Linked DNA regions of Homo sapiens. The protein of the gene in region 1 interacts with the protein of each later gene in a pairwise test. Each region holds a gene or a part of one and is shown in the gene's direction. Other genes may lie near its edges. The genes, in order: GNA13 and CXCR5.

Region 1 (3,812 bases):
TTTTAAACAAAGGTATGAGGGTGCTGGTTGATGCTCGAGAGAAGCTTCATATTCCCTGGGGAGACAACTCAAACCAACAACATGGAGATAAGATGATGTCGTTTGATACCCGGGCCCCCATGGCAGCCCAAGGAATGGTGGAAACAAGGGTTTTCTTACAATATCTTCCTGCTATAAGAGCATTATGGGCAGACAGCGGCATACAGAATGCCTATGACCGGCGTCGAGAATTTCAACTGGTAAGAGATTTGCTCTTTTAAAACGTGTGGTTTTATTTTAATGATGTTTAGTAATACAGGTTGCACATCCCTAATGCGAAAATTCGAAATGTTCCCAAATCTAAAAGTATTTGAGATGGAGGAACAGACTGAAAGGCTAAGGCACAGACCTAATGTGTCCTAGTCTCTAATGACTACGTGTAAAAATAGTGTATAAAATTACCTTTAGGCTACATATCTTAAGGTATATATGAAACATAAATGAATTTCTAGTTTAGACTTGAGTCCCATTCCCAGCATATCTCATATGTATGCAGATATTTCAAAAATCTGAAAAAATTCAAAATCCAAAACACTTCTGGTCCCAGGCATTCGGATAAGGGACACTCAACCTGTATCTGATTTTAGCACACTTTTTTCACTGACTTCCATAATTTAATGTATCTATCCAAAATTATAGCCTCAGAAATTTGTTTTTTTGTTTTTGGGGGGTTTGTTTTGAGACGGAGTCTCTGTTGCCCAGGCTGGAGTGCAGTGGTGTGATCTTGGCCCACTGCAACCTCTGCCCCCAGGGTTCAAGCAACTCTCCTGCCTCAGCCTCCTGTGTAGCTGGGTCTATAGGCGCGTGCCACCACACCTAGCTAATTTTTGTCTTTTTAGTAGAGGCAGTTTCGCCATGTTGGCCAGGCTGATCTTGAACTCCTGACCTCAGGTAATGTGCCCACTTTGACCTCCCAAATTGCTGGCATTGTGCCAGGCATTTTTCCCCTTTTTTCTTTAACGAGACTACCCATAAAATGCTTTGTAGCTGTTACACAGCATTGAAGACAGGTTTGGAATAAAAGTATCCAATCCAGGTTAAAGATACAGAATACAGTTGAAACAAATTTTTAATCAAGTGTTTTGTAATTTAACTGTGAATGCTGTGATTGGGTTTTATTTGCCAAAGATCAGAAAGATTCCAGCAGTGATAGAAATCTAGACTGTGTGCAATTTGGAGGTAGTTCAGATCTGAAGTGTTTTACTCTAATATGATTAAAATGAAGTGACAGTTAAAAGTAAAACTGCTGGCTGGGCACGGTGGCTCATGCCTGTAATCCCAGCACTTTGGGAGTCTGAGGCGGGTGGATCACCTGATGTCAGAAGTTTGAAACCAGCCTGGCCAACACGGTGAAACACCGTCTCTTCTAAAAATACAAAAATTAGCCAGGTGTGGTGGCAGGCACCTGTAATCCCAGCTACTCAGGAGGCTGAGGCAGGAGACTCGCTTGAACTCTGGAAGCGGAGGCTGCGGTAAGCCGAGTTCGTGCCACTGCACTCCAGCCTGGGCAACAAGAGCAGAACTCCATCTCCAAAAAAAAAATAAATAAGCTGCTTAGGAAGTTGTTTGATGATGTCACCAACATTAATCCACATTAATGGGTGTGGCTGCAAAGCGATGTACAACCAGCAGTCCTTGCTGTTATTATTTATACTTAGAAGCAGTCTTGCCTTTTAAAAGTTCCAGGAAAGTGTTCACGATAGCTTTTTATAAAACTGACACCTTAATTTTGACTATATCTGAATTATGGCTTTTATATCTGTCATTCAACTAGCATTTGATTATTTACCGTCTTGTATAGTTCTCTTCTATCATGTTTGTATCTTGTCTTTTCAAGTAATGTGTTTATTTCTGAAAGGCAGGGACTGTCTCACATTATTGTTAAAATTACGTAGCTGCCAGTATTGCATGTTGAAAATGATGAATTTAACTTGACAAATGACCTCCATCCAATTCCCAGATTTCTGGTTAGTTTTGTCCCTTGATCAATGTTTATTACTTTATTTTTGGTAGATTTGCTTGCATGAGTTCTTCCATATACCCCTTTCCATCGCCCATCACTCTACCTCCTGTTTTTTGTTTTTTTGCATTTTTTTGAGAGTTTTGTTCTTGTTGCCCAGGCTGGAGTGCAGTGGCGCGATCTTGGCTCACCTCCGCCTCCTGGGTTCAGGCGATTCTCCTGCCTCAGCCTCCCAAGTAGCTGAGATTACAGGCATGCGCCACCACACCTGGCTAATTTTGTATTTTTAGTAGAGACAGTGTTTCTCCATGTTGGTCAAGCTGGTCTCTAACTCCTGACCTCAGGTGATCTGCCTGCCTTGCCCTCCCAAAGTGCTGGGATTACAGGCATGAGCCACTGTGCCTGGCCATCTACCTCCTGTTTTTAAGTGCTGCTTATTCTCCTTTCTTCTTAGTTCATTTTCTCAACAAACCACACACTTTCAACTCAATTTTGTCAGGCTCTATTCATCCTTCCAGGTCAGAGAAGAAACATTCATCTGTAATAAGCATACAGTGCATATGGATTAAATGAATAAATAAAGAACTGCATACCTGAAAGTTCTCTGTGGGGAAGTTCCGTATTTGCCCTAAGTCCATTTAATTAAAGTTGTGTTTCATGGACAGTTTTTTAATTTGGAAGCTGACGTCTAACTGTCTCACATCAGGACTGTCATGTCCTCATTGTTGAGAAAGCATCCCTAAGTATATCTTTGTGATTAAGAACGAATAGGTAAAACCACTCAGGATGAGGACCTGCTTGTTGTTGACTTGAGCCAGTTGATCCTTAAGGAGCAAAGAAGTCCTCAAAGATGAGGAGAGATAAGTTCCAGAAATACTTTTTTCCATGATGAAAAGTAGAGACAAGAAAAGAGGAACAGAGCAAGACCTAATTTTAAACTTCTGGAGGACAGAGATTCTTTTTTCCTGAGTCTACGCTCAGCATTGTTTTTTGTTTTTTTGTTTTTGTTTTTTAAGAGAAGGTCTCACTGTTGCCCAGGCTGGAGTGCCCTGTTGTGATCATAGCTCACTGTAGACTCAACTCCTGGGCTCAAGTGATTCTCCAGCTTCAGTCTCTCAAGTAGCTAGGACTACAGGTGTGTGCCGTCACACCCAGCTAATTTAAAAAAAAATTTTTGTAGAGACGGAGTCTTGCTATGTTGCCAGTGCTGGTCTTGGACTCCTGACCTCAAGCAGTCCTCCTGCCTTGGCTTCCCAAAATGTTGGGATTATAGGCATGAACCACTGTGCGTGGCTTCAGCATTGTTAATAGCACCTGACACATAGAGATGCTCCATTATTATGTTGACTTAATGACTCTTAAACTCTTGGATGTGCTGTGGTGCTTGGCATAGTGTCAGGCACTGAGAAGGCACTTGGCTTACTTAAAATTTTCCTCAAAGTCATCATCAATTCCATCTACTCATCTACATGCAGCAGCTCCCCAAGTTCTGATTTTTCTACCTCTGTAACGTCTCTTGCATTCATTCCCTCCTTTCCTCTATTTTGTGTTCTGCTACCTCTTGCTTGGACTCCAAGGCAGTCTTGTTCAAACACAGCATTGGTTTGCTCAGAAAGCTTTGGTGGCTCACCATTGTCTTCAGAACAGAGCTCAGCTTTTTTGTGGGAGTAAAGACTCTAGCTAGCTTACCTGTGATTCCAGCAATATATTTCATTAGGCCACTGGACATACTCTGTAATCTCTTGATTCCCACATACCCTAATTTTTTGCTTCTATAGCTCTCATCATGCGTAGTCCCTCTGCCAGAATTATT
Region 2 (4,293 bases), on another chromosome or scaffold:
TGTGGGTGCCTCTGTGCGTGCAGTCATCTTTCTCACATCATTGTGGATCAAGAGAGGAAATGCCCACTTCTGGAAGAAAAAGCCACAAAATGAGACTTGGAAGGGAAATTGATCAACATCTACAAAACGGCTTCTTAAAGGAAGCGGCCCTCAGACAGGACAGAGTTGAGGGAAAGGACAGAGGTTATGAGTGCCTGCAAGAGTGGCAGCCTGGAGTAGAGAAAACACTAAAGGTGGAGTCAAAAGACCTGAGTTCAAGTCCCAGCTCTGCCACTGGTTAGCTGTGGGATCTCGGGTAAGTTGCTCTCCCTCTCGGCCTCACGGACCTCCTGAATAAAAATTGAGGGTTAGACTGGATGATCTCTGAAGCCATCTCTAGCTTGGTAGTTTATGAGGTTAATAATTTATGAGCAAACAAAGTTAATTTATAGATAGAACATCATTATTTTTGAGTCAGAAAATGACTCTGTAACTATGTGCTTTTCTTGGTGATTTCACTTTTTTTTTTTCTTTTAGAGACATGGTCTTGCTATGTTGCCCAGGCTGGTATCCAACTCCTGGCCTCAAGCCATCCTCCTGCCTCGGCCTTCCAAAGTTGATTTCATTTTTGTCTTCCAGTATTGTTTTACTGTTGTTCCCTTTGAAAAATTCTAACCTATCTTTTCTGAACTTGAGCTGAGAAGGGAAGGGGTTTTGCCTCTGTTGGGCAAAAGGATGGTGGCAAGTAGTGTGACCAAGTGCCCTAACTTGCCAGGACTTAGGGGTTTCCCAAGTCAAGGGACTTTTCAGTCCTTGGCAGACTGGAATGGTTGATCACCCTAGTGGTGAGGAAAATGAAGGTTTGGAGGTGGCTTGGAGGAGAGGTTGCTGGGAGAGCTCTTCTCCTGTTCTCTGTTGATCAGGAGTTTCCCTCATCAACCTGCTGACTTTGCGTGGTGGTTTCATTACAAGTTGTGAGCCCCTTATTGGGGGTATAGGGAGGAGAAGTGAGGGCAGCCTTTAAACTAGTCATAGGCCCCAGTTGAGACAATTATTGCCGGGAAAGAAGCTGAAATGCTTGACTAGCACTGATGCTGTGGGGGATTTTCCCTCTTTCTTCAAAAAAACAGAAAAGACCCAGTGGAAAAAAAAAAAAAAGTGATGAGTTGTGAGGCAGGTCGCGGCCCTACTGCCTCAGGAGACGATGCGCAGCTCATTTGCTTAAATTTGCAGCTGACGGCTGCCACCTCTCTAGAGGCACCTGGCGGGGAGCCTCTCAACATAAGACAGTGACCAGTCTGGTGACTCACAGCCGGCACAGCCATGAACTACCCGCTAACGCTGGAAATGGACCTCGAGAACCTGGAGGACCTGGTGAGTAGACACGGGTAGCTTCCTGTCGCCGAGGCCCTGTCTGGAATTCTAACATCCTTTGCCAGAGTCCGAGGGAGAGGGGACAGTGTGGGAATCCTCTCCCACTGTGGATCTGTAAAATCTAGACAGGTCAGTCAGCTCCCGCCCTTTAAGAGTTTATTTTCCATTCTGTGGAAGAAGCAGATAAGGAGAGCTGCTGTCCTTAGGAGACATCCTTTAGAGGAAGCTGGAAGACACGGGTTCAGGCCCTGCATCCTCCTCTGAGTTGCTATGTGACTGGGAACAGGATACTTCACCTCTCCATTCTTTCTCTCCTTTTCTCTTAGGGTCGGAATATGGAACTAGACAGGAAAGTACTTTGGAGGTTTTCTTACCGTAAGGAGGCTGGCATTGCTAATCAGTCAATGAATGCATAGCTGTTCGTCTCTGGCCATATGATTATGTCATCAGGGCACTACATTCTGTGTTGGGTGGAGAAGTTGAGGACCTGGTCTTTGCCCTCAAATAGCTTCTGCTCTGGCCAGAGAAAAAAATCACTCACTGGAAGCTATTAGGCAACAATTATGTGCTAAACTGAGGGAATGTGAGACCAGATGGTAGCAAGGAAGAGGATCCCAGCAGGCTGGAGTCAGGGAGCAGGGTGAGAAAACTGTTAATCTGACAAATGTCTTGGAACCTGTTGTAGAATCTCTAGAGATAAGGTATTCTTGGAAAGGTTTCTTGGGTGGGCTAAGAAAATGGTCTCCAGCACTACGCTGCCACCACTCAAGTCTCTCCAGTGAAGCGTAGTGGTGCAGTTGACTTGGTTGTCACTGGGCTCCCAGAAGATGTGTGTGTGTGTGGAGCAGCTCAACCAGAGAAACACAGGGTTCCTTGTGAGCCGACGGCAGAGGCTGGTTGTAAGGGTTTCTTGGAAACTTCTTCACTGTCTTTTCTCCCCCTGGAGAGAGGACTTGTTTCGGGGCTGCACTCTGGGTTAGATCATGAAGGAGCCAAACCCTGGCTCCTACCAACTCTCCTGTCCCAAACTTACCCTAAGATATTGTCTGACTCCCTCCTGCTCCCCCGGCTGGAGTGGACTTTGTGGAGTGGACTTTGTAGTTCCACCAACCATGTTCCCAGACTTGCTCAGAGAAGCCCGCCTCTCGCTTGCCCAGATCCCAAGGCTGGGAAGTGTAAGTAGGACACGGGGAGAAAGTGGGCAGAAGGGCTGACTACCCAAAGCCTGGCCCCTCGGATCCAAACCGTAGGTGGAATCAGAGCCGGACCATTCATCTAACCAGGACCTGCTACATAATTTGTGGGACCCAATGCAAAATGAAAACATGGGGCCCCTTGTTGAAAAATTATTATAAATAAGAAGGCAACAGCAGAGCACTAAACCTCGTGGGGGGTCCTGCTGGGTGCAGGCCCCCGTGTGACTGCCCCAGTTGCAAGCCCATGAAGCTGCCCTGAGTCTAATCACAGAGTCTGGGCAATACCCCAAATCAGACTAAAAACCCGCGGCCCCAAAGGGGCAATGTGCTCCCACCCTGGCCCCCGGTCACAGCCGCTGGCCTCGCCTGATTAGGTTACTGGGCGTCTTCCTCTGCCTGCAGCTTCAAACTGACCACGAGCCCTGACCCAGTTGGACATCTTAGTAACCAACTGGAGACCCGGCGGGTCCCAGCTTCTGAGAAACCTTAAGAGTTTCCCCTAACTGCACGCCTCACCTCACTGAGTGACCTACTAGGGACAGGTGGGGGCAGGGGGCAGGGGCAGCAGGGCATGTCCCAAGAAAACCTACATCTGGGGGAAAGGGACCCAGTGACTTTCTTCATGTCACACCTCAAATGAGTGATCCTCAGCCAGGCATTCCAATATCTGGATCCCTCACTCAGGGTCTAGCCAGGAGCCCAGGAGTCCTAGGACCATCTGGGCTCTGGAGCTCTTCAGCCAGCCACCAGTGCCTCGTTCCCCCTTCACGAATCTCCTACACACCCTGTCTCCAGGGCCAATGTCCCCTCAGAACACAGACCCTCTCCTCCGCCCCCACCCACTCACTGAAGGGCCGTGAGCAGCTTGGCAGACTGTCCCTCAGTGTCACAGTACAAAAACCTCGGGCGTAGTGGTACAGGCAGGAGAATCTTGCATGTAGCAGCTTCTCAATAAGTATTTATTGATTTGTGATGCAGTAAAGGTCTTAGCTCACCATTTTCCTCTGGAGTTAGTCTGGGTCCTTCTATTCCTTCTGCTTCCTATTCTCCTCCTTGTCCTTGCCCATACCAGGTATTGGTTCACATTCCTTGAACGCTGGGTTTTACACTCTCATGTTGAGCTAAGAACTGGGGCCTTTTGGTTACACAAACTTGCCAGAAAAAAAAAAAAAAAAGGAACTGGGGGCTCCTGGCCATAAGCCAGGTTCGTCATTCTGTATTCCATTTGTCCTCTTGAACTCGAAGACCAACTCGAGCCGCTTAAAATGTCCACTTCTTTAAGGCAGGGGCTGGGGGGTGGGGACGGGCTGCTAATTCTCATCAATGAAAGGTCCAAATAGAACAAAAATTAGATGGCTAAGAACCAGGAACAAGAAGATTCCAGGTCCTGGGGTGGGTATGCCAGGGACCCATCCTGCTGGAAAGGCCGATCCTGGCAGACCTAGAGCAGACCCTGTCTATGCGACCCTCGATCTGAGAGCCTCCTTCCAACAGAACCAGGGCCTGGGCTGGGGCATCCACAGAGGCTGGTCATAAACTATACCTCCAGCCCCACCCTGCACACCAGCCGGGAGGGGAAGCTGCTATAGCGCACGGTGAAGCTGGTCCAAGCCCCAGAGCCTGGCTTTCTATGACCCCTCTCCATAGACAATTACCACACATCATGACTTCAGTGTGACCAGAGCATCACAGGCGACACAGCCCGTCCACGTGGACCATCTCATTTCATCATGTAGGTGTGAAG

What was found.
Region 2: the proteins of GNA13 (region 1) and CXCR5 interact in binary tests that used the Homo sapiens proteins (3 or more experiments, as listed by UniProt).

Annotation. Positions count from the first base shown.
Region 1 is NC_000017.11:65,049,929-65,053,740, reverse strand, and holds part of GNA13 (guanine nucleotide-binding protein subunit alpha-13), read left to right. Parts: intron 1-12; coding exon 13-239; intron 240-3,812. UniProt on the Homo sapiens protein: Guanine nucleotide-binding proteins (G proteins) are involved as modulators or transducers in various transmembrane signaling systems.
Region 2 is NC_000011.10:118,882,640-118,886,932, forward strand, and holds the start of CXCR5 (C-X-C chemokine receptor type 5), read left to right. Parts: upstream 1-1,252; 5' UTR 1,253-1,302; coding exon 1,303-1,353; intron 1,354-3,487; exon of another isoform or gene 3,488-4,293. UniProt on the Homo sapiens protein: Cytokine receptor that binds to B-lymphocyte chemoattractant (BLC). Involved in B-cell migration into B-cell follicles of spleen and Peyer patches but not into those of mesenteric or peripheral lymph nodes.